Homo sapiens: one gene and its partners. The protein of the gene in region 7 interacts with the protein of the main gene of each other region in a biochemical or structural test. Each region holds a gene or a part of one and is shown on either strand. Other genes may lie near its edges. The genes, in order: SHANK2, SIPA1L3, MPP1, CYTIP, HTRA3, PDLIM4 and DGKK.

Region 1 (2,612 bases), on a different chromosome or scaffold from region 7:
CCCACAGGCAGATGGCAGCCCTAATATGCTCACTACACCGCAGGCTCATCCTCTAGAAAGGCAGAGGCTGCTCAGGGAAGCTTCGCACTTAAAGCAAATGGAGCATGACAGCATTGAGACAAGAATTACACTGATGTACTTCTCACATCGTTTTTTTGTCGAAAGAAAAACACACATGTTGCCACTTTCACTTGTGAAAAATGGAAACAGTTTTCCTGCAATGAGTGGCCTCAATCACTAAAAATGAATTTGTGTATATTTATAACAAAACGTCGAAATGATTGATATTGATGGCTTCGTTAAGCATTACCAATGAGTACCACCGGGGGGCGGCACAGCACAAGGGGAGTAGGTCAGAGAGCCCAGGGCTCCTGTGGTTAAACTTTTCTCCTTTCCATGAAAATCCTCAAACACATTTTGTATTTTAATTAAATGAAAATACTGAAAATGATACAGTAGAGAGCACTTTTAATGGAAAATTAATTGATAACACAATCTTATTTCAATTTACTTTTTATTTTTAACTTAAACGACTGTGTATTTTCCACAGTCTTATGATGAGAAAGGCTCCAGAATCACGTGTAGGTGTCCTCAACATTTCATAGCTCGAACCGTCCTTTCTTTACGTTGTGCATTGATATGGGCTTCTCAGTTCAGAAAACAAGGCACTATAACTATTTTATCAGCTACATTAATACATTGAAGATATATTTATCCTTTCATGAAAGATACAGCATTTGAATACAATATGGTTTTATGCAGATCAGGTTCAAAACACCCAAGGCACACACTTTATTTTTTTTCCTTTTTTTTTTTCTTTTCTGTGTTTATTTGAAGGCTCGTATTAAAATTTCAAAATTGGCATGAACAAAGAGTTCCAGAGTGGAATCAATGGACAGGGATTGTTGTAATTTTGAACATAAAACGGTAAAGACTGTGGAATGTAGAACAAGTTACAGGAACGATAAACAAAATCACCAATACAGCATGGATTAGAAATCAAAGTGATGAGATCTGCGGAAGTCTGAGAAACAAGTTTGGAAATTCTCTGATTCCCCACAAAGCACGGGCAGTCCTGTCTGCATGCAGCTGCTGTGGTCACCCAGCCACTGTGGAATGTTCACCTACTTGCATGGGTTCATGGTTGTCTACAAATACAGAAACACATTCCAGTTCGCCAGTTATTAAAATGCCTCCAATTTCAAGTAAAAGAAAAAATCTTCCAATAATTTTCCTAGTAAGGTAAACGAATATATTCATCTAGGAAAAGTGGTCTGGAAGAAACCATTGGAAGCAAAGTCTAGGGGGGTGCCAAGGTTTGGGAGAAACTATTGGATGGTGAAGCGGGAGAGCTTGAGGGTGAACTACAAAAGATATGAGGACTGGAATTTTTCCTGAACGTGGAAGCATAGAGGCTGCTGCTCAACTGGGGAATGTGCCAAAGTAGAAGAAACTTTAGGAACTAAAGACAACAAGTTTTCACTGGTGAGGCCAAAGAAGAAGTTCAACGTTTAGGTTTAAAATATGCTTCCCTAAAGCGGAGGGATGGCCCATGTCTTCCTGGCTTAGTTCTTTGCCAATAGACACAAATTCTCTCTTGCTCCAAGCCTTAGCATGTGGTTTGCTTGTCAACCAGAGAGGCGGCCCAGTTCTGCCACTCCCTTGGCCTTATGGCTAGAAGACACCCTGCTGGGGTGTGGGGAGACTGGACCCTAAGGGAAGGGTCCGGATCTGGCTGGCCCTCCGCGGCACCGCTGCTTCCACCCAGAACAAAAGGAAAAGCCGAGCCTCAGCTCCACGCCTATAGCAGCGGTCACAGAAGCAGATTTTGACGTTTTGCATAATTCTGAAATAACATGCACGTATCCATTGATAAATTGAGAATAAGGAAATGGAACCAAGGCAGATTAGCTCAGTGACAGGAGCCTGTTTACTCGATGAGAGAGATTTTTCTGGTCAGTTTTAGAGAGGCAGAGCTGGCCACAATGCCTGAGATAATCTACATTAGATTGCAAGTCGGGCAGCTTTTTGTTTAATTCAGACAGTGTTCACTGTTTGTTTGCAATCAGAACCACAACCTTAGTGCAATAGTATATTTATTTTTTTACAGTAATTTTGGTTGCCATACAAGAGATTTAAGGATTGGGAGAAAGTGCAAATTACAGGAGCTTTTTTTTTTTTTTATAAAGTCTAAAAAGAATAAAAGCACAAAAGTAACAGCAACATAGATAATGCGAACACGTGTTGTTACACAAACTATAGTGTGAAACATATTAGTATTTAAAAAACAAAAAAAAATTGTTAATGGGAAAATCAATATTGTGGCCCACACACAAAAAGTCATTGCCAGATCAACTGGATAATGCTTGCTTGTTCAATAACTGAGAAAAAAATTTACCATTTTATTAACTAAAGTATCACAAATAATTCACTTTGTGATATGTAAAGTTCAGCAAATCAACAGTCACATTGAGTAATTTTTATATTATGTGAATTAACTTAAAATGTGCGCAGACACCCTGGAAAAGGTATCTTGGCAGGTATACATAATTTACATTTTGAGAGATTTGGGTTTTGTATACACAATATTACAGAAACTAGGCATGTAAATG
Region 2 (3,500 bases), on a different chromosome or scaffold from region 7:
TTTTTTTTTTTAATTAAAAAAAATCCTGGCTGGGCACAGCGGCTCACGCCTGTGATCACAGCACTTTGGGAGGCTGAGGCGGGCAGATCACGAGGTCAGGAGATCGAGACCATCCTGGCTAACAAGGTGAAACCCCGTCTCTACTAAAAATACAAAAATTAGCCAGGTGTGGTGACAGGCGCCTGTAGTCCCAGTTACTCGGGAGGCTGAGGCAGGAGAATCACGTGAACCTAGGAGGCAGGAGGAGGCGGAGTTTACAGTGAGCCTAGATTGCACCACTGCACTCCAGCCTGGGCGGCAGAGTGAGAGGCCGTCTCAAAAAAAAAAAAAAAAAAAAAATCCTGATCCTGCCTCTTCAGATAGTTTTAACTGTGATGGAGAAAATTTAACAGGGTAAGTGGAGAGCAAATGGCTGATGGGGCAAGATGGCGGTGGTTACCTTAGCTTTGATGGTCAGGGAAGGCCTCCCAGGCCTCTTTGAGGAGTCATGTGAACTGATACCTTAATGAGCAGTGGCACTGGCTATGCCGAAAGTTGAAGAAAGAACATTCCAGGTAGAGGGAACAGCAAGTGTTAAGGCCCGGAGGTGGGAGTGAGTTTGCTACAAAGAGTATCAGTTTGACTGGAGAAGAGTTAATTCCTAGTTTTCAAGTTGATACTACTTTAATTTTTTTTTTTTTTGTGGCAGGGTCTGCTCTGTCGCCCAGGCTGGAGTGCAGTGGCATGATCTCAGCTCATTGCAACCTCTGCTTCCTGGGCTCAAGTGATCCTCCTGCCTCAGCCTCCCAAGGAGCTGGGATTACAGGAATGTGCCACCACACCTGGCTAATTTTTTTTTGGTACTTTTAATAGAGGAGACAGGTTACACCATGTTGGCCAGGGTGGTCTCAAACGCCTGACCTCAGGTGATCTGCCTGCTTCAGCCTCCCAAAGTGCTGGGATTACAGGTGTGAGCCACTGCAGCCGGCCACATTTTTTCTATTTTTTGTAGAGACCTGTTTTGCCCAGGCTGATCTTGAACTTCTGGGCTCAGGTGATCCTCCACCCTCAGTCTTCCAAAGTGCTAAGATTACAGGCACGAGCCACCATACCTGGCCTACTTTTTTATAAAATAATAATAATGATAGCAGCTTACCTGGTGCTTACTCTGTGCTAGATGCTTTTCTAAGCATTTCACACATTCCTCAGTTAATCCTGACAGTAGTCCAGTGAAGTAATTAACTTGATCAAACTCATTTTACAGATGAGGAAACTGATTCCACCCTCCATGCTCTTCACCTGCATTCTAAACTCTTCCAGGGCCCTCCTTACCAGGCAGAGGCAAATTGAGGAAGTGGACACAGCATTTCCTTTCCTTGTTGTTTGACATGCAAAGCACTTTAGACTATATTTAGTACCTAATTGATGTGGCAGCAGGGGCCGCCTGGGATGTTGTGGCATCATTTTTGCTCTCAATGAGACACGATAGGGATGGTTTGGTGGTGGTTTCAAAACTAAAGACCCTCCAGCAGAGCCTGTCAAGTAAAACAAGGTTGACTGCTTGGTTGCCATACCAGGCACAGGTTAGCATGAAACAAAGTGTAGTGTCCAAGGAGAGGGAGCAGGGTGTCTCCTTTGGGTGAGCTTTGCAAGGGGACTTGGGACTTGGCTGGAAAAGGTGTTTTTTTTTGTTTGTTTGTTTTTGTTTTTTTTGAGTCAGAGGCTCGCTCTGTTGCCCACGCTGGAGTGCAGTGGTGTGATCTGGGCTCACTGCAACCTCCGCTTCCTGGGTTCAAGCGATTCTCCTGCCTCAGCCTCCTGAGTACCTGGAGTTACAGGCGCCCACCGCCACTCCCAGCTAATTTTTGTATTTTTAGTAGAGATGGGGTTTCACCATCTTGGCCAGGCTGGTCTCCAACTCCTCACCTCAAGTGATCCGACGGCCTCAGCCTCCCAAAGTGTTGAGATTACAGATGTGAGCCATGCACCCAGCTGGAAATGGTGTTTTAAGCACACTAGCCATGTGGGCTGTTAAAGTATCATACTATAGCCCATCAACTAAGACAATGATTCTTGGACCTGTAAGGGCCCCAGGTCCCTGCTCCGGCATCATGACCTGTGTGCACTTTGATTTGCTGTAGCGTGGGCGTATTTTGAATGAAGGGTAGCCCTGGTTAGATGTGAGGACAGTAGTGGGTGCTTTTAAGACTAAAAATATTGGGTGGGCATGGTGGCTCAGGCTTGTAATCCCAGCACTTTGGGAGGCCGAGGTGGGAGGATTACTTCAGACCAGAAGTTCAAGACCAGTCTGGGCAACATAGACCCCAACTCTGCAAAAAAAAAAAAAGTTTTTGTTTTTGAGACAGTTCTCACTCTGTTGCCCAGGCTGGAGTATAGTGGTATGATCACAGCTCACTGCAACCTCTGCCTCCTGGGTTCAAATGACTGTCCTGCCTTAGCCTCCACAGTAGCTGGGATTACAGGCGCCCACCACCACACCCGGCTAATTTTTATATTTTTAGTAGAGATGGGGTTTTACCATGTTGGCCAGGCTGGTCTCAAACTCCTGACCTCAGGTGGTCTTCCCGCCTCAGCCTCCCAAAGTGCTGGGATTACAGACGTGAGCCACCGCATCTGACCTCATCTCTGCAAAAAATTTTTAAATTAGCCAGGCTTGGTGATGTGCACCTATAATCCCAGCTACTCAGGAGGCTGAGGTGAGAGGATCACTTGAGCCCAGGCACTACCACACCTTGAGCCCAGGAGATCAAGGATACAGTGAGCTATGATCACACCACTCTGTGTCTAAAAAAAAAAAAAAAAAAAAAAGACTGAAAGTATGGAGAGCATCTTTCATCTGTCCATCTGTGAAACATTTCTTCACCTACCCTGTGTGTCAGGGTCCATGCTTGACACTGACAGTATAAAGTTGAATAAGACACTGGTTCTCAAAAGCCCACAACAGTGCTGTCTGTTAGAAATATAACGTGGGGCCGAGCGCGGTGACTCATGCCTGTAATCCCAGCACTTTGGGAGGCTGACGCGGGTGGATCACTTGAGTTCAGGAGTTCGAGACCAGCCTAGCCAACATGGTGAAATCCCATCTCTACTTAAAATACAAAAATTAGCTGAGTCTGGTGGCATGTGCCTGTAATCCCAACTACTCGGGAGACGGAGGCAGAGAATCACTTGAACCCTGGAGGTGACAGTTGCAGTGAGCCAAGATTGCACCACTGCACTCCAGCCTGGGCAACAGAGTGAGACTCCTTCTCAAAAAAAAAAAAATGTGGGTCACTGATGAGGCTCATATAGGTAATTAAAAATTTTCTAGTAGCCATATTTTGAAAAGTAAAAGGAAGCAGGAAAGTAATTTTAATGATATATTTTATTTCATCTAAAACATCATTTCAACATGTAATCAATATAGAAATTATTAGTGAGCTATTTTACTTCCTTTTTTCCACATTAAGCGTTTGACATACAATATGTATTTTACACTTTCAGCGTATCTCAGTTGGTAC
Region 3 (3,500 bases), about 100 Mb from region 7:
GAGGCGGGCGGATCACCTGAGGTTGGGAGTTCAAGACCAGCCTGGCCAATGCGGAGAAACCCCATCTCTACAAAAAATACAAAATTAGCCGGGCGTGGTGGTGCATGCCTGTAATCTCAGCTACTCGGGAGGCTGAGGCAGGAGAATCGCTTGAATCCAGGAGGCGGAAGTTGTGGTGAGCCGAGATCGTGCCATTGCACTCCAGCCTGGGCAATAAGAGTGAAAGTCTGTCTCAAAAAAATAAAATAAATAAAATAAAATAAAATTCCTCTAGCCACCACCACAATGAAGATAGAGAACTGTTCCATCCCCACAAAGGCCTCTCTCCTGCTGTCGCTTTATAGTCACACTTGTCTTCCTCCCTACCCCATCCCCGCAACTCCTTGCAGTCACTACTCTGTTCAATGTCTCTATGATTTTGTCATTTTAGGAATGTTATATAAGTGGAATCATATAGTATGTGATGTTTTGAAATAGATTAGCTTTCTTTCAGTCAGGATAATGCCTTTGAGCTGGATCCCAAGTTGTTTTAGTATCAATAGTGTTTTTTGTTTTAATTGCTGAGAAGTGTTCCATGGTATGGATGTACCACGCTTTAACTGTTCACCTGTATTTTGGTTCTTTATAGATTTTGGCTGTTATAAATAAAGCTGTTATGAGCATTCATGTACAGGCTTTTGAGTGAACATAAATTTCCATTTCTCTAGGTGAATATCCAGGAGTGTCATCCCTGGGTTTTATGGTAGTTGTGTGTTTGGTTTTTTAATAAAGTGTTCAACTATTTTCTATGGAAGCCATATCACTTACATTCCCACCAGCAATGTATGAGATGCCCAATTTTCCCTCAGCTTCACCAGTTATGAGTATTGTCACTATTTTTTTATTTCAGCTATTCTGATAGATGTGTAGTGATATATCATTGTTGTTTTAATTTGCATTTCTCCCTGATGGCTAATGATGTTGAATATCTTTTTATATCCTCATTTGCCATCTTTATATATCCTCTTTGGTGAAATATCTGTTCATGTTTTTTGCCCATTTTCTAATTAGATTGTTCGTTTTTACTGTTGAGTATTGAGCACTCTCTTTTTATATTCTATATACCAGTCTTTTATTGGATATGTGGTTTGTAAATGTTTCTCCCGGTCTGTAGCTTGTATTTTCACAATCTTCATGTGGGCTTTCACAGAACAAGAGTTTTTCATTTTGATGAGGTCCAATTTACCAATTTTTCCTTTAATGGATTCTGCTTTTGATGTCATGTATAGGAACTTTTTGCCTAGCTCTAGATCCTGACAAGTTTCTTCTATTTTTTTCAAATATATTTTCTAGTTTTGCACTTTACATGTAAGTCCATATCCATTTTAGAAGGTAAGGTTCAGGTCAGCATTTCCCTTTTTGGTGATGAGTTTCCAATTGCTGCAGCACCATTGAGTTGCTTTTGCATCTTTGTTAAAAATCAACTGGGCATATCTCTGTGGGTCTGTTTCTGGGTTCCCTATCCTGTTCCCTTGATCTGCATGTCTATACCACATAGTCTTTACTGAGACTATACTACAGTAAGTTTTGAAACTGTGCAGACTGAGTCTTCCTACTCTCTTGTTTTTCAAAATTATTTTAGCTTTTCATGGGTCTGTACCTTTCCATCATGTATACGTGCTTTTAGTGTAACCTACATGGACCAAGTGAGTGAAAGCACTCGTGTATGAGAAAAATAACACCCCAGATATAGGGTGATCGGTAGCCAACACTGGCTTCTGGCTGAGGCATCAGTAAGGAATGTGAGAGCTGGGGCCACCTGGAGAGCGATGCCAGATCTTCTGATACTTTAAAAAGAAGTTGGAGTCCCCTGATTTTTACTAAACAAAACAGAGACATGTGGTCGAAATAAAACAGTTTGCAACTTCTGCTTTGGAGATTTTTTCTTTTCTTTTTCCAGAGATAGAGTCTCGCTCTGTTGCCCAGGCTAGAGTACAGTGGTGCTATCATAGCTCACTGCAGCCTTGACCTCCTGGGCTCAAATGATCCTCCTGCCTCAGCCTCACGAGTAGCTAGGACTACAGGCACATGCCACCACACCTGGCTTGGAACTTTATGTAATGCATTCACTCCTTCATTTATTGTCCAACCAATGCAGATCCTACTTCTTGACTCCCCACTTTGTAACAGAACAAGATTACAGGCCTCTTCCTTTCGATTTTTCTCCCCTTTTTACCTGCCAACTTCCTATCATGGACATGTGTACCTTAATATTGTCATGGTGCTGATATTTACAGTCTGTTATTTGTTTCATGATTTGTTTCTAAGTGAGTTCTAAAAAGTAAAAATCAATAAGTGGTTTTTAGATTATTATAACTGGTTGCCAATCCAACATCCCACTTCTCACTTACATATCCCTGATCTTGTTTGGGATGGCAAGATGCTCAACTAAACTAATCTTCCCAGCCTCTTTGGCTGGTGCCTCCTGTATGCACATTCTAGGCTCTAGCTGTCTCAACTCTCCTTGGTCATTCCTCCATCTGCTTTCTGTCTTCTGGAAAGCTATTGAAATCTTGGCCGGGCATGGTGGCTCATGCCTGTAATCCCAGCAGATTTGGGAGGCCGAGGCAGGTGGATCACTTGCGGTCAGGAGTTCCAGACCAGTCTGGCCAACATGGTAAAACCCCGTCTCTACTAAAAATACAAAAATTAGCCAGGTGTGGTGGCGCTTGCCTGTAATCCCAGCTACTCGGGAGGCTGAGGCAGGAGAATCGCTTGAACCCAGGAGGCGGAGGTTGCAGTGAGCCGAGATCACGCCACTGCACTCTAGACTGGGTGACAGAGTGAGACTCTTTCTCAAAAAAAGAAAAAAGAAAAGAAAAGAAAAGGAAAAAAAACAAAGAGAAAGAAATCCTTCAACCCTGATGACTTTTTGTGGGTTTCTATTTCCCTCCTCCCGTTTACTCTTACTTAAACAGGGTCAAGGTTGAGGCAGGACAAGATCCACACAAGTACTTGAACCTGAGTCCCAATCACTTTGGAAAATTCTTTTACTAATTTATTTTATTAAAGTAACACAAGCACATAATACATAATTTAAAAGGTATAACTTGATACACAGTGAAAACAATTTCCTTCTCACCCCATCTTATAGCCACCCAGTTCCTCTCCCTAGAAGCAACCACTGTTTCTTATGTCTCCTTCCAGACATAGTTTATGTATTTTCATTTATTTTATTTTTTGAGACAGGGTCTCACTCTGTCACCCAGGCTAGAGTGCAGTGGTGTAATCACAACTCACTGCAGCCTTGACCTCCCGGGCTCAAGCAATCCTTCTGCCTCAGCTTCCCGAGTAGCTAGGATTACAGGTGCACGCCACCATGCCCGGCTAATTTTTTTATTTTTTGTAGAGACGAGGTTTTACTATGTTGCCTAGGCTGGTCTCGAACCCCTGACCTCAGGTGATCCTCCCACCTCAGCCTCCCAAAGTGCTGGGATTACAGGTGTGAGCCACTGAACCTG
Region 4 (3,500 bases), on a different chromosome or scaffold from region 7:
CAACGACTTGTTTGTAGGTAAAACCTTCTGTGCTCACACCATTGATATTTGCAAGGACATCACCTGGGAGATGCCAAGAAAAATGAGTGTTATGTTGGTTAGTTAAATAATCCCTCCTGACATGCAAATGAAACAAGCAGCTCCAAGTCTTAAAAACATAAAGGAGCCAAGAAAACTCAAAGCAACAAATACATCCTGACCTTCACTCTCAAAACATTTTATTTTCTTTCCATTTAAATGATTCCTAACATGAGCAAAAATTTAAGTTACCAGCTTGCAGGCCAGCACAGTGAGCTGGGCTGTCCTCCTGTATTTTGCATATCAAAGTGAACATTTCCGAGGAGCAGGCATTCTGATTCTGGGGCCTGTAAGACTGTAAAAATTAAGATGATATATAGTTACTATTTAACAACCTCAACATCTATTTGCCAAAATTTAAAATGATGTCAATTATCATTAAGCAGTATAATAGGTAAGTTCAAAGGACAAAGGATTTCCACTATAAACTAAATCAAGGTATCAATTTTGCAATTCTACCAGACAATCTGTAGCCAACTCCATTCATAAAGACATCTGTCATGAGAAAGAAAGTGAAATGAGAGTGGCTCAAGATTTTATATTTTCAAGCCCAAGATATCACCTGATGCTATCACGATTTATTTTTAAAAATTGAGTTTCTCATTTCCCAATGGGATAAAACAACGATGGCCAAGTGCAATGAGAAAAATCCCTAAGTGGTTCTCCCAAGCTAAAACACTCATTATAGGAGTATGAAATTGTACACATGCAGCAAGGAGACATGCCAACAATGATTATTTTAAATCAGAGTTCTGCACATAATGACAATCTGCCCTGCATTTATTCAAAAGTACTATAATTGACTCAATTACCTTCATTTCTGAGCACCCTCTGGTATGCCTGTCCTGAATCCTCACCGGTTCATTAGTCACCCAACTAAATTAGAAAAAGTTAAGCTTCAACTCTTGCCTCAATTAGGCACAAGTAGTTTGGTGGTGGTGGGTTTTTTTATTTTTAATTATACCAAAACACTGAATAAATGTTTGCTAGATATAGTGTCCCAATGACCTATAACAAATATAATTTTCTTTTTTTCACACATTTAAATTATGAAGTCTAGTTCCACTTAGAAGCAAAATCAGTGTTCTGAGTAGAGTACGTCTTTTAAACATCTGATTCCTAAAATTAAGCTACATTAAAGTAGTACTTCCTTGTGAAAAAATTGATGTCTGATGTTCATTCTTTCTTATTCAATAATCCCTGAGGCATCACAAGTCAGCCACATGCAAGCAACTTCTAGAAACTTGGGTCTGTTCACCTCTAAAGGACTTCTATCTAATCTATAAGGCACTTAGAATCCCCATATCTTAAAGGTAGAAGGGACTTTAAAAGATCATGCACTATGTTCCCATCTATGTCAGAAACTTCATTGACAGCTTTCCTGCCAGGGGTCTTCTCAGTATAGCCTAGACCCTTCTGGAGATGAAAGACTGATCTAGTTCATGTGGTACATGAATAAAATATACAACTGACACTCCTTTGGGAAACCACTGTTCTAACAATTCTCATTAGCAGTGAGACTCTACCCTCCATTCCCAGAGATCAAAGTAAGTACAGTGCAGTAGAAACATGTTGATTTATGTAGCTGGCACCTCCATATATGTTCACATTGGGTGTAAAATATGGTAGTTAGAAATAGAAAAAAACAGAAACCCCAAAGCTACAGAAAGTATTAATTGGATGCTTTTTTCTCTTACCCAGTCTTCTAGCTCCCATTAAGGGATCAGTGACACAATGATCACCTGCATTTCTTAGAGACACAAAGATCTCATTGTCCTTTCTCATGCCCAGTGACATTCATTCTAACACCTGTCATTTGTGGATCTTCTATTGGTAAGGCACATCACTAGGTACATTGCATGTATTATTTCATTTAAAACTCCTAAGGACCCCATAAGGCATTAGGAGGATATGAATTCAGGTGTGCATGAGTCCAAAGTCTGCATTCCTATTGGGCTGCACGATTCTGATAAGCAGCATAAAACTAGCTCCCATGGAGAACCATGGATCTGGTCTCTTCCAAAGTGTCATTCCTCTAGTAGGCCACATCCCAAACATGTACTCACACTGCATGCACAATATGGGTACATGAGGTTCTATCTGATTTTCAAAAAGTTCCCAGAAGCATGTCTCCTATTTGTTAACTGCTGCAAATCTGATGAGTACTAGGGAATAGATTATGGTGTGTATTTGACAATGGAGAGCATATACCAGAGGGAATTTACAGGAGTGTGGGTTCCTGCATCACTGAGATAACACCTACATGCTGCCATTTAGAGGTGCCATTAGTTCATGTTGATCTACAAAAGTTCAGTGGTGTTGTGGCCTGACATAGTTTTGACTCTTGCTCCACGGAGAATAAGTGTTTATGGTATGGGAGAAAAACTTAAGAAAGTAGTGACATTATTATGGCAGTATAAGAAAAATAAAGAAAGGTGAGTAGTCGTTTATCCAGTTTTCAGTAGCCACTGCTGCACATCCTTGAGGATAATTTTCCTTTAAAAAGAAGCAGTGACAAAAAGCAGTGTCTCTACAACAGAATAGGGAGTAGTTCATATGACCGGGGAGTAAGAGGGAGCACTATGCTTCTAAAACCTATAGATTTCACCAGTTACTGTGGTGAATTACAGATTCCTCCAAATTTAAAAGTACAGGAGTTAGGAAAGTAGAAGTGATCCTCTTTTCAAAGTGCCTTCTCTGTCTTCATTGCAGCTAAAGTTCCATTTTGTTTCTTTACTCATAAAACATGTTTTTCTTAGCAGTTTCCTGTTCCTAATCTTAAAATAAACACTGACTTTCCAATTGTGGGGCTGATATCACACCAGAGTTTTCTGAAAGCAGCAGTAAAGCTAAGATCTAAAATCTGATATAGAGTGTAAGAATATGATTATGCAAAACACATCCAAAAGACATGCAAACGTACTATGGAAAAAAAAAACAGAAATGCTTAAGCTACTACTGTTGCACTTAATTGGGTTAGACTTCATTTGACCTACCTCACCCATTTTACAAATGTGCTCATGAAAAAGCAGACAGCTAATAAGCAATGAAATTCTTAGGCAATTATGCTGAAACTTATAAAGACTTAAAAATTTCCTACAGCATGAGGCAATCTGCAAGTAGAGCCAAATGTTCTCAAGTGTTTCAAATAACAATTATAAAGCATTGTCATTAGGAAAAAAAGCTACAAATTGCTCATTATGTACAATATGAACTCTAGTTGCAAAACATACCAGGAGCTATCCATGAATATATGCATTCTATATACACAGATGTATAGTCTTTCGAGTGTCTCTTGAATGCCAAAGTAAATACTTAAAATCTGATACACAGTATAACAATATGATTATACAAAACACATGCAAATATATCAAGTACACATCTGTAAAATGTATTTCACTCTCTTATCTAAGACCTAGCTG
Region 5 (3,500 bases), on a different chromosome or scaffold from region 7:
AAGAGCTTCAGAGACTTCTGGGGCAGAGCTGGGACTCCACCCTGAGCAGCCAGACATGAGGGACAGAACTGGGTCCCAGTCCTGGTGCTCTGCCCATTATGTGCTGGAGCAGGGTAATGCACACAGGTGGGCAGGCTGTACATTGCACAATTCCAGGGAGTCACCTGCTACCCCTGCACTAGACCTGGCTTTCAGCTTGGGGAACATATGGACGTGTCCTCGCCATATCTTTGCTGCACCAAGGACAGCGGTCTATGATTTTAAACCCTGTCCCACCCATTAGTCCACAAACACCCTCATCAAAACCAAACAAGGCAGACACTTCGAGCTGCTAGGGGCCTGCCTGGTATTCAGAGCACTGGCTGGGGAACCAGGGGACCTGGGCTCAGGGCAGAACCATCCATCCCTACCTGAGTGACCGAGGGCAGCTTCCTACAGCTCCCTGAACCCTTTCTCATACAGGACCAGGACATCAATACCCCAATGATGTGTTGAAGGCTTTGTGGGCCTGGAACAGTGCCCAGTGTCACACCGTTCACCCTTGTGAAACCTGGTGGCCTCCCTCCCTCAAAGCAAGCCTGGGCGGAAGGTGTTCAGACCACCTGGCAGGCCCTGGTGAGCCTGTGGGAGGCCAAGGGTGCACAGGCCCCCTTGTACCCACCTCTCCACAACTAGACGCCCCCATCTCCAGAAAGCCCTCCTGATCTAGCCCTCTCTCCACTCTGAAGGTGGTTTCTTCCTCTTCTGGGCTCCATGCATTGTCATTGGTCCCTCACAATGCAGGATGGGGGTTTCACAGGGGTCTGCGGCTGTGGTGATGTGGGCAGGAGGCAGTGGTTGGGGTCACCAAGCCTGCGAGCCTGCCAGGAGGCTATGCTTAGTCCTGAGGCCGTGGGAGCCATGGCCCAGCTTTCGGCAGGGAGGGTCCGGGTCTCGCCAAGTCCCTTCAGGCTGCTGTGTGGGGCTGCATGGGAGGGCAGAGGCCTGTCGGGGGAAGACCACAGGATGGCAGATGGGGTGAGGGTGCATTTGCTAGGCCAAGCCCCGGCAGGAAGGGCAGCTGCACAGCGCCCTGGTCTCAGCTCCAGTCCGGCTGGACTCCTGGCTCCTGGCAGCCTTGGCGAAAGCTCTTGGCCAAGCAGCTCTGCCGGCAGTTCCAAGTCCTCCAGTGCCGCCAGATGCTGTGGCTCAGCACTGCAGCCCCAGCGGGAGTGGGCGGGGCAGGAGGGGAGGCGTCATCTTGCCTGAGTGGTCCCAGATGCTGAACTCCAAGGCATGTGCAGCCCCAGGAAGCTGCTAAGAGGATTACAAATCAAAAGCCAACCCAAGTTCTTCAATAAATACAACCGGGAGATGCCATCAGAACCTGCTTGGGGTTGCACAATAAAAGCCGGTGATTAAATGCCACCTTGTAAACTGCTCTGGGGCTCTACATTCTGAGCGCATGGCAGGCTCCAAGGCCTGTTTATCTGCAGCCAGAGGAGAGGCTGCATGGCCTCAGAGCTCTGGTTACGCGCAAAGGGAAACCCTTCTCCACACAGGCCCTCAGAAACGCATTTATCCCTGCTTTTACCATCCCGTGGATGGACATTTATCCACTCTGTGCAACTGCGATGCCTTAACATGGACCTGAGAAGATGCGAGGGTTCCCCTGAGAAGTGGTGAGCCTCTGTCACTGGAGGGATGCAAGAAGGGCCCAGAGGGTTAGAGGAGATTCACACATCACATGGGCCCTCGTCTCATTTCGTGTCATCTACAGAGGCCACGCACTGGCCCAGGCCCCTGCCCGGCGAGGCTTCGAGCCTGGAGGAGATGGGGATCACGCAGAGAAATTGACCCACAGTCACATCTGTGTGCAGGGCCCACCGGAGACCCTGGGTGTGCTCACCAAGCAATGAAGGATGACCTGGGCACAGTGGCCAGGGCAGGTGGCTCAGGGGCGGTGGGACATCCGGGTGAAGGCAGGATGAGGAACCCACCACGCTAAGGCAAGGGAAGGAAACGCCGGGCAGTGGGCACATTGCGTGCAAAGGCCTCGAGGTGGGAAAGAGACCGGTGAGGCCATGAGGCCAGAGCACAGGGGATGAGGGGACAGTGGGAGACGGCACCGAGGGTGATGCGGGCCAGGTGGCAGGCACAGGGCCCTGTGAGTCAAGGTAAGTGCTGGGGTGCCTTGCAAGGAAGCCTGCAGGTCATGGGCAGGACAGATTGACCAAGGTGATCCTGGCTGCTGTGTGAGAAGTGATGGAAGGGAGGATGGAGGGGGAAGTCAGAGCGCCCCAGGAGATGTTTTGTGGATGAGCTGAGGGGACTCCCGGTGCACAGGAGAATGAGGGGTGGAGGGGAGTGAGAGGCAGAGAGGAATGAGGGGTGGAGAGGAGTAAGGGCCCCCATCCACACAGCTGGGCTGCAATGGGCAGGCCCAGGAAAGGTACCCCCACACCAAGTCCCAAACTGATGAGCCACTGTGACAGTGCAGCAGGCATTGAGGGGAGTGAGGGGAAGAGGGGAATGAGGGGCGGAGGGACGGAGGGGATCGAGGCTCCCCACTGAACATCGTGGTGCTCCTTTCAGTGGGGCTGGGAAGAGTAGAGCCCGAGGCGGCTCAGCAGGCATCTCCACGTGACTCTAACTCAGGAGAGACCCGGGGGCTGGAGATAGGGCCCGAAGTCCCAGCACCTGGGGAGGACTTCATGGCAGATGAGCTTACTGGGGCGGGGGTGCGGGGGGGAGGGTGGCGAGAAGGGACCAAGGAGACCTTCCTGCCTAGAGGGTGGGAGAAGGCGGAGGAGCTGACATGGGGAGGGGAGAGGAGAGCACAAGGAACCTCAGCCCACAGGAGGCTGCCCTCATCAGGCAGGACTTCCTCCCAGAAATGCCCGGCAGCGCCTGGCACACCACTAAGTGTGACCGGCACCCAGCAACTTCTGGCTGGGACCTCGGGAGGGCAGAAGCCGGCTACGCTGCTGGAATACTCCATGGAGGCTGAGCCTGATGGAGCCGGGGGCCCAGGCCTGACCCGACTCCCAGCCTCAGGGGCCCTGCCACCCCTTGCAGAGGAAAAGCCAGGAGGCCCACAGAGCATAGCCTGCAAAGCCAGCCAGACCCAGGCCAGGCCCAGCCGGGTCACTTCCTGACCATGTGACCTCAGAGCAGTCCCTCACCCTTCCTGGCCTCCAGCAGCACATCTGTGGTGCCTGGGAAAGGACCAGGCTTGCCGTGGGAAATGAGACAGGGCTGGGGAGAGGCCGGGCACCCAAGGCCTCCACAGGGAGTGGACTCTGCGTGTCGCCCTGCCGAAAGCTGGCTGTCCAAGGTCCCCGTGCACCGGGCTACAGTGGCAGGGCTGCACACCGCCCACAGTGTGAACGGCGCCCTGGAGATGGCCAGCAGCCTCCCACCTGCACTCTCTGCCTCCCCTCCCCACCAGGCCCCATTTCCCCACCTGGCTCCGTGGGCTCTGGTGGCGACAGGGCTCTCGGGTCCTGTGCAGGTCTCTG
Region 6 (4,169 bases), on a different chromosome or scaffold from region 7:
GAACAGCCCAATGGCTGGTGCTCTAATGGATTCAGACACCGCACCCCCCCCCACACACACACCCCAAATACACTCCCATATAAACACCGCTACCACACACCACTTGTTTCTCTCCCAGCTGAACAGATAGCAGCATCTTGCCTCCTACAGAGGCACCCACATTCTACTCTGAAGGGCCCCTCCCTTCCTTGGACTGCCCTAGGTTTGTGCTTCTCAAGCAGTTCTCCTCTTTGCGGGTTGTCAGAGACCCAGTGGACACATTTCATCCCACCACCTGTGAGGAGCCCAAGAGCAGGGTCCTTATCACAGCTTGACTAAAAGGACACATAAGGTTAAGGATTTGGGCTAAATGAGAGACCTCCACAGAGTCTGGAAAAGTAAAAGGTGTCTCCCTGATGTAGCCAGATAGAAGTGCCGAGAGAACCAGAGGGAGGTTGGTGGTGCCATGGCATCTGCATTGGCTGTTCAAGTACATCCCCGGAGGATAATGGTTGGGAATGGAGAGAAGACCTTGGAGAGAAAAGGGCCCAAAGTGAAGCGCTGCATATATTTCTTCCCTTTACACTGCACAGCCACGACCCCAGCCGCTCCAGCTGCTACTTTCTCAGGAGACCTGGGGAAACAAATCTCCTGGCAAAGGACGAGGGGAGGGGGCTGTGCAGACAGGGAGGTGGCCTGCGAGGAGCCTGCAAGCAGCAAGAGAAGGCCTGAATGTTCTGGGGAAGCAGGGACACCTTGCTTCCAGATACAAGTCAGGGACCACCTCTTCCAGGAAGCCTTACTGGCCTCCACAAACTAGTCTGAGGACCTTTCTGTGTCCACTCCCACGCTCGGCGCTGCCTGCTGTCGTTTTGGGTCTGCGTCCCCGGCCCAGTGCTGCGCAAGCCCCTGGTTCATAGGGTTCTTGGTTCAGAGGGCTCCTCACACGGCAGGATGGGCCGCAGGTGTGCCAGTCGGGCCCATGAGGAGGTATCTGAGCTGGGGCAGCCCCATCCCCCAAGTGGGCCCTCCATCCCTCCTCGGGCTGGAGCACCGCCCCTAAAAGCGACTTCAAAGGGCCGGTGTCGACAGCTGGGTTTGGGTCCGCGGCCTGCAGATCCAAGGCCCGAGCAGGATCCAGGCCGTCGGGGCCGTCCGAACGCGGGGATCTCTGAGAGCTGAGTGGGGGTGCCGGGTTGCCGGCAGCCGGGGCTGAGGGCGGGTCCTCAGAGCCCCCCGAAGTGGGAGGGTCGGGCTGGCCGCGGGGCCAATCCAGGCGCACAGGGAGCGGGGGCGGGGGCTGGGCCGAGTGGGGACAGGGGCGGGCGGGCCGGGGGCGGGCGCGGCGTCCAGGCGGCGGCGGCGGCTGCGGCGGCGGCGGCTCCTCCTCAGAGTCCGGCTCAGGCTCCGGCTGCGGCTCCAGCCCGCGATGCCCCATTCCGTGACCCTGCGCGGGCCTTCGCCCTGGGGCTTCCGCCTGGTGGGCGGCCGGGACTTCAGCGCGCCCCTCACCATCTCACGGGTGAGTCTGGCGGCTGCGTGGCGGCAGGGCGGTCCCATGTCTGAGACCGGGTTCTCGCGGTCCGCCCGGGACCCAGATCCCCTGTGTATCCGAGGCTTGAAGGCGGAGGGTTGGCCTGGGCGCCCCGCATGCTGTAGAGGCGGCTTCCAGGCAGAGGCAGGCAGCCCCAGCCGCCCTCCTCCCACGCTGGGCCTGTCTGCCCGATCCCGCGAAGAATCTCCCAAGAGTTCACGCACCCGCCTCCCCGCTGGCCTCATCTGGGGGAGCCACTGTGGACCCGGGAAGGACCCGCGGAGATGGGCCAGGGGTCTAGACAGCTCTACAGAGGCCCAGAAACTCTTCAGACTCACCCCCTGCCTGAAGATCTGGGGCAAAATGATTTAGAGCCCCCCTTCCCCTATCAGGGGTCCCTGCCGGCAGAGCTTGGTGACCCAGGGAGGTCTGGGGTCCTCGCTGAATCTGAGAAGACAGAGGTCCATCCACTTCCCACTTTGGGCGTGAGTCAGTCTCTCATTCACGACCTCAGTCACCCTAAGGGGAAGTGACCAGGAGGAATTTTGGCTTCCAGGGGAAAGGGAGACTTAACTGTGAGGTTGTGAGACCCCTCCCCACAAGATGACACAAAGCCGGGGGCCAGGACAGCCTCAGGCCCGTTCCTCAAGTTTCCCAGGGCCCTGCCTTGCCCACAGAGAAGGAAAAGGAGCCGGCACAGCCCTGGAGCGTGGCTAGTCTGAGGATAGAGGAGTGGAGGAGGTGACTCAGGCCCTGTTCGAGGGGGTGCCTGTCTAGGGGAGACAGGATCCTGGCCCAGCCTCGACATCCTCGTGTCTGGAGGGCCAAAAGAGAGGACTCAGACCCTGCCCTTGGGGGTCCCCAGCCTAAGGGACAGAAGAGGAGAGAACCCAGGCCCTGCCCTTGGCGGCTCTCAGTCTGGAAGGAGCAGAGGAGATAACCTGAAACCATCTGACGGCCATCCCTTGCTCCCACACAGGCTGATCTTGTCTTTGGGGGCCTGTGTCAGAGGCACAGAGAAGCACCTTCCCCCACCCTACTGCCACCTCTTGCCATGGGGGCTGGGCCAAGCCGGCTGGGCTTTAAGAGACTTCTGTCCAGTTCTTGGGAGGGGGTGGGCACCAGGTGGAGCGTGGAATCATGGAATCCCGTTTCTGGGGGCCAGGGTGACAGGCAGGCCCAGCTGTCCTAGGAGGCTTCCCACATCTGCCCTCACTGCCAGGTCCCTGGGGCCGAGTGAGGTGGGCCTTCAACACATCCCAGAGCCTTTCATCTCCTCTTTCCTATAGGATTCCTGCTGTGTGTGTGTGTGTGTGTGTGTGTGTGTGTACGCAAGCCTGTGTCTGCTTGTGTGTGTCATGCTGTGTGTCCGCTGAGGGGGCTGGTGGGGACACTAAGCGGGCTGGCCAGGCACCCTGGGCGTGAGGCCGCTGACAGGCTCAGTGGCGGCGGCTGACGGCTGCAGGCGGCAGGGAGCTGAGACATCTGTTGCCCACGCGGCTGCCTGCCCTCCGAGGAAAGGCCTCCACACGTCACAGCTGCGGCTGCGGCAGCAGCAGCAGCAACAGCCTTGTTTGGAGCTGACTGGGGATGCAGGCCCCAGGCAGGCAGTCTGGGAGAAGGTTTGCCAGGAAGAGCCTCCTTTGTCCCCCAAAGTCACGCGGCAGCAGCTCAGGCCCAAGGAGCCAGGATGGCTGAGGTTGGGTTTGGGTGGGATCTGGGGAGATTTACAGCGCTGGGGAGGCACAGGCCACAGCTTGCCTAGCAGGTACCTCTGGGGCAGGTCTACAGGGACTGAAGATATGTGGGAGTGTCTTCACCAGTGGGGCTCAAGATCCAGCCCCTCCCTTGCTTCCAGGACCTCCCCTACGCGGGACCTGGTAGGGAGGGACAGCCTCACACAGACAGGGAGGAGGCTATCGGCCCGGCAGGGCTGGGGGCTTGCAATCTCAGCCCATGAAGCCTCCAGGAGTCCCAAGAACATCATCCGGGGCTCCTTCCCCACAAGCTATAATGATGGCTGGCCTTGGCCAAGCATCCAGGGTGTGCCAGGCCCTACCCTAATGGGTGTTGGTAACAGCTCCCTCCAGTCCCTGTAGTGAGCACCACCTTATTTATGCCCAGCCTCCTGTGGGGGCTTTACATGCCCTGTTTTTCTCAAATAGTCCTTACAACAGCCTTTAGAAGTAAGGACTCCCTCTGGCCTTACATAGATGGAGACCCAGGCACAGAGAGGCTAATGTAATCAACCTAGAGAAGCAGAGTGGAGACAGGAGGAATCCAGGCAGTCTGCAGTTTGCTGTGACTGTGTAGGACAATGTGGCACCTGGTTCTGACTTGGACTCCCAGCCCACCACATCTAGGCTGGGTGGAGCAGGGGCTGGGAATGCAGCCACTACCGGTAAGGGGCTGATTCATGCCCTCACCGCCCACCTGACTTCACTGTTCCTGTCTCTGTTCCTTCTTTCTGTTTATCCTGTGCTTAGGAGCTAGACGGATCGGCCTGAATTCCACTCTGTCCTGTGACTTCCCGCTTAGAGCCCTCCATGGTTCCCAGCCACCCAGGAGAAATGCCAGCTTCCCACCCGGGTGTACAAGACTCTGCAATATCTGATCCCTGCCTCTTCTCTGACTTCATCTCTCCCACTCTCCCCTC
Region 7 (3,500 bases):
CCTTATTCTTAAAATACAATTTTTTTTAAGATTTAAAATAAAATTAAGAATGGAAGGGTATATGTGTTGGTGAAGAGGATATTACTAATGAAACAAAAACAGAATCCTCTTAAAGAGAAGAAGTACTTCAATGTCACAAAGACCCATTAATTTTCCTGTCAAAACACAACCAAAAAAAAAAAAACCGATTTTTTTAAAAGAAGAAAAAATGAAAGAAAATCCTTCTAATGGGAGTTGACTCAAATTCACTCAAAAACTTTATTCTTTTTATTTTATTTATTTATTTTTAATTAATTTTTAACTGATGCATAATAGATGTACATATTTTCAGGGAACATGTGATAATTTAATATATTTATATAATTTACCAAAAGATTTATTCTTAATATAGAATTTTTGTAATTTGAGAACAAATAGAAAAGATAGGTAGGGGAGAAACACAAAGCCAAGAAAGTCCTCTTAAACAAAAGTATTCTCAGCCTCAACAAAGCCCCTTTTTTTCTCAAAACAAGCAAATACATTTAGAATTATGGGGGGCGGGAAGGGAAGAACATGAACAGTATATTTTAAAGAGAAATATTTTTCTTAAGGAATGAAGATGCCCCCAAACTCACCAAAGTCCTTGAATATTTTTCTGAAAACAAAAAAGAAACAAAGAGAAGGAGAGAGGGAGAAAGAAGGAAGAGAAGGGAGAAGGAGAGAGAGAAACAGAGAGAGGAAGGGAGGGAGGAGGGGAGAAGGAGAGAGGGAGAAAGAAGGAAGAGAAGGGAGAAGGAGGGAGAGAAACAGAGAGAGGAAGAGAGGGAGGAGGGGAGAAGGGAGGGAGGGGGAAAGCCGGACAGGTAGAGAGGAGAGGAAGGTAGGAGCAGGTAGGGAGAGACTGAGATAGGGAGAGGAAAAAAGAGGGAGAGAGACAGAGGAAGGGAGGGAGCCAGAGAGAGAGACAAAGGGAGAGGTGGAGAGGGAAAAAGAAAGAGGGGGAGAGAAGGGAGGAGAGGGAAAAAGAAAGGGGAGACGGAGGAAAGGAGAGGGAGAGAGGAAGGAGGATGGGGGGAGAAATGTGAAGGGAAGGGGAAAAGGACTAGGTAGGATAGAGTGAAGGTGGCAGAGAAGGAGGGGTGGGAAAGAGGAAGAAGAAAATTAACAAAGGGATTATTTTTTAAAGGATCAAAGAAAGAAATTCTCTCCAGGAAAATGCACCAACACCTTACTGCAGACATTGCGTATTATTCCTGATGACTACCCTCTCCATCCCCCACAATAAGGAAAAAAAAACCACACACACACAAAATCTCTTTCTCAAGCTTCTTCAAGGTGGGGAATGTGCGTGTGGGGGGGGTGGTGGGTATGTACCCAATCTCACCCTATCCCAGGGACCTTATGTATCTTTCAGCCTTCACTGTTTCATTAAAAAAAAAAAAAAAAAAAAAAAAAAAAAAAAAAGCAAGGAAAGGAAAAGAAAATCTTTCCAGGAGAGATGTCTCCCATTCTAATTTTTCCCAATAAACTGTTTCTTTTAAAGAAAAGGAAAGAAAGAAAAATCCTACTAGGGAGGGCTCCCCAGCTTCATTAAAACAAGTTGCCCTTGTAGGTCCTCTCCACAAAACCTATTTTTTAATGGAAATCCTCCAGACCTAAAGAGAGATGCTCCCCCACCTCCACCAAAAGCAATGAATCTTTTCCCCTGGAGATTTTTAAAGAAAAAAATCTTCCATTGTAAGAGGAGATACCTTCAACTTTACTAAAATCAATGGACTTTATTCCTCTCCACATCCAAGAGGAGAAAAAAAATATTTGAGGAAAAGGGAAGAAATCCTCCTAATCTAAGGCAAGTTGGCTATAATCCCTCCAACACCATTGAACTTTCTTCCTGAGATTTTTTAAAAGAAAAAGCAAAGACAGAAAAAAAGCCTCAAAAAAAAAAAAAAAAAAAAAGCACTCACTTCTCCCACAGGCTCCACAGATCTGAAGTGTTGTACAAAGAAAAGGTACTATCCCTCTCAAATGGCACCAGTGAACTTTACATTCAGCACTAAGGCTAAAGGATGATACATTTTAATCCCAGGCTGGCTTCCCGCTGCCCCAGTCTATTTCTGGTTACCTTCCCCATCATCCAGGTAGGCAACACTCCCAAGAAAGGCACTGTCCAAAAGAAAAAGAATTAGGAGGCAAACCTTCTGGGGAAAAATCATACCTCTTTTCCAAACCGAACAAATGATTTGGGAATTCGCTGCGTCATTGTTCCCATCTAACACTACAGAGAATTAAGAGTTGATGATAAACTCAAAAGCAGTGACACTCTTGCTATTAACTACCAATTAGTCAGACACCCCTACCTAACAGGGAAGGACCCTTCGCCAACTCAGTAATGGAGGTGATCCATCCTCCATTATGTTTCATTATGTGCTGGCTTTGATGTCTGTTCCTGCAGGGCGATAAAAGGGCTTGATTTTCACAAATCCATAAAATTTGCAAATCATATTTATAAGCAGAGAGACTCAATTAATGTTTTCCAAATTTTAAAATTCATTTATTTCTTTAAAACGTAAACTGATACCTGCTCCCTATGTGCTATGTGTTTAACATTGTGCTAACCACTGAGGATTCTACAGTGAACAAAACCACATGGATGAGACTACCTTTAAGCAAAACTGGTAAATGAGAGACTCAATTACCAAAACAAATATGCAGATGGTGGTTATTTGTTTTACCAGATGCTTTGCCAAGGTATTCACTATTAATAGTCAGTTCTCTCAGCATTCCTCTACTTAAACTAAAATTCAATGTAATAAAATAAAGGAATGCATGCTAATTTCAGAGAATGTGGAAAATCAAGAAAGCTTCTAAAAAGTAAATAAAAATCATCTAGTACCCCACCACTCAGAGATAATCACTGTTAATATTTTGCTATATTTTTCATTTATTTTCTCTGAATATTTGCTTATAGTCTTCTGTAGTAAGACTTTGGGGAATGCACAATTGTGTCTCGGGCTTCACCCTGCCCCAGTCACAGCCCCACACGCTTAATTATTAGATCGTGTTCATTATTCTACCTTGGATTTAGGAAACACTTGTTCATTTTAGCTTAAAGTTCATCTAGTCAAACTCCTGTCTGATCTGATTGTTAAACATATGCTTGAATCACAACCATTCAGGGGCATATTTGCTGTGTGAAGCAGTAAGTATATAGATTTTATGTAGACACAATTGTTGCAGTTGCTCCCATATACAAATGCAGTTTGATCTCACATTTACTTACTGCACTTTTTTGGACACTTAGATTTTATTTGTCCAGTTAGCTTTTGTGACTTGGCCTTGGAGAAGGAGATCCAGAACAAAACCAACCTTATCTTCCCACTGTTAAATTCCCAAAGGGAAAAAATCTAAATTTCTGAGTCACTTTTAACTATATGCCAAAAAAAAAAAAAATTAGTGATGGCTTTGTCTCTTTAACAAGAAGTTACAGCATTATGCTAAACTGGGTATGCCATACCCAGAAG

What was found.
Region 1: the proteins of DGKK (region 7) and SHANK2 interact in a test that uses a peptide from one of them, tested with the Homo sapiens proteins (one large-scale study listed by IntAct).
Region 2: the proteins of DGKK (region 7) and SIPA1L3 interact in a test that uses a peptide from one of them, tested with the Homo sapiens proteins (one large-scale study listed by IntAct).
Region 3: the proteins of DGKK (region 7) and MPP1 interact in a test that uses a peptide from one of them, tested with the Homo sapiens proteins (one large-scale study listed by IntAct).
Region 4: the proteins of DGKK (region 7) and CYTIP interact in a test that uses a peptide from one of them, tested with the Homo sapiens proteins (one large-scale study listed by IntAct).
Region 5: the proteins of DGKK (region 7) and HTRA3 interact in a test that uses a peptide from one of them, tested with the Homo sapiens proteins (one large-scale study listed by IntAct).
Region 6: the proteins of DGKK (region 7) and PDLIM4 interact in a test that uses a peptide from one of them, tested with the Homo sapiens proteins (one large-scale study listed by IntAct).

Annotation. Positions count from the first base shown.
Region 1 is NC_000011.10:70,467,354-70,469,965, forward strand, and holds the end of SHANK2 (SH3 and multiple ankyrin repeat domains protein 2), read right to left. Parts: 3' UTR 501-2,612; downstream 1-500. UniProt on the Homo sapiens protein: Seems to be an adapter protein in the postsynaptic density (PSD) of excitatory synapses that interconnects receptors of the postsynaptic membrane including NMDA-type and metabotropic glutamate receptors, and the actin-based cytoskeleton.
Region 2 is NC_000019.10:37,913,708-37,917,207, forward strand, and holds part of SIPA1L3 (signal-induced proliferation-associated 1-like protein 3), read left to right. Parts: intron 1-3,500. UniProt on the Homo sapiens protein: Plays a critical role in epithelial cell morphogenesis, polarity, adhesion and cytoskeletal organization in the lens.
Region 3 is NC_000023.11:154,795,486-154,798,985, reverse strand, and holds part of MPP1 (55 kDa erythrocyte membrane protein), read left to right. Parts: intron 1-3,500. UniProt on the Homo sapiens protein: Essential regulator of neutrophil polarity. Regulates neutrophil polarization by regulating AKT1 phosphorylation through a mechanism that is independent of PIK3CG activity.
Region 4 is NC_000002.12:157,430,590-157,434,089, forward strand, and holds part of CYTIP (cytohesin-interacting protein), read right to left. Parts: intron 374-3,500; coding exon 271-373; intron 64-270; coding exon 1-63. UniProt on the Homo sapiens protein: By its binding to cytohesin-1 (CYTH1), it modifies activation of ARFs by CYTH1 and its precise function may be to sequester CYTH1 in the cytoplasm.
Region 5 is NC_000004.12:8,272,754-8,276,253, reverse strand, and holds part of HTRA3 (serine protease HTRA3 isoform 1 precursor), read right to left. Parts: intron 1-3,500. UniProt on the Homo sapiens protein: Serine protease that cleaves beta-casein/CSN2 as well as several extracellular matrix (ECM) proteoglycans such as decorin/DCN, biglycan/BGN and fibronectin/FN1.
Region 6 is NC_000005.10:132,256,327-132,260,495, forward strand, and holds the start of PDLIM4 (PDZ and LIM domain protein 4), read left to right. Parts: upstream 1-1,369; 5' UTR 1,370-1,408; coding exon 1,409-1,501; intron 1,502-4,169.
Region 7 is NC_000023.11:50,460,826-50,464,325, reverse strand, and holds part of DGKK (diacylglycerol kinase kappa), read left to right. Parts: intron 1-3,500. UniProt on the Homo sapiens protein: Diacylglycerol kinase that converts diacylglycerol/DAG into phosphatidic acid/phosphatidate/PA and regulates the respective levels of these two bioactive lipids.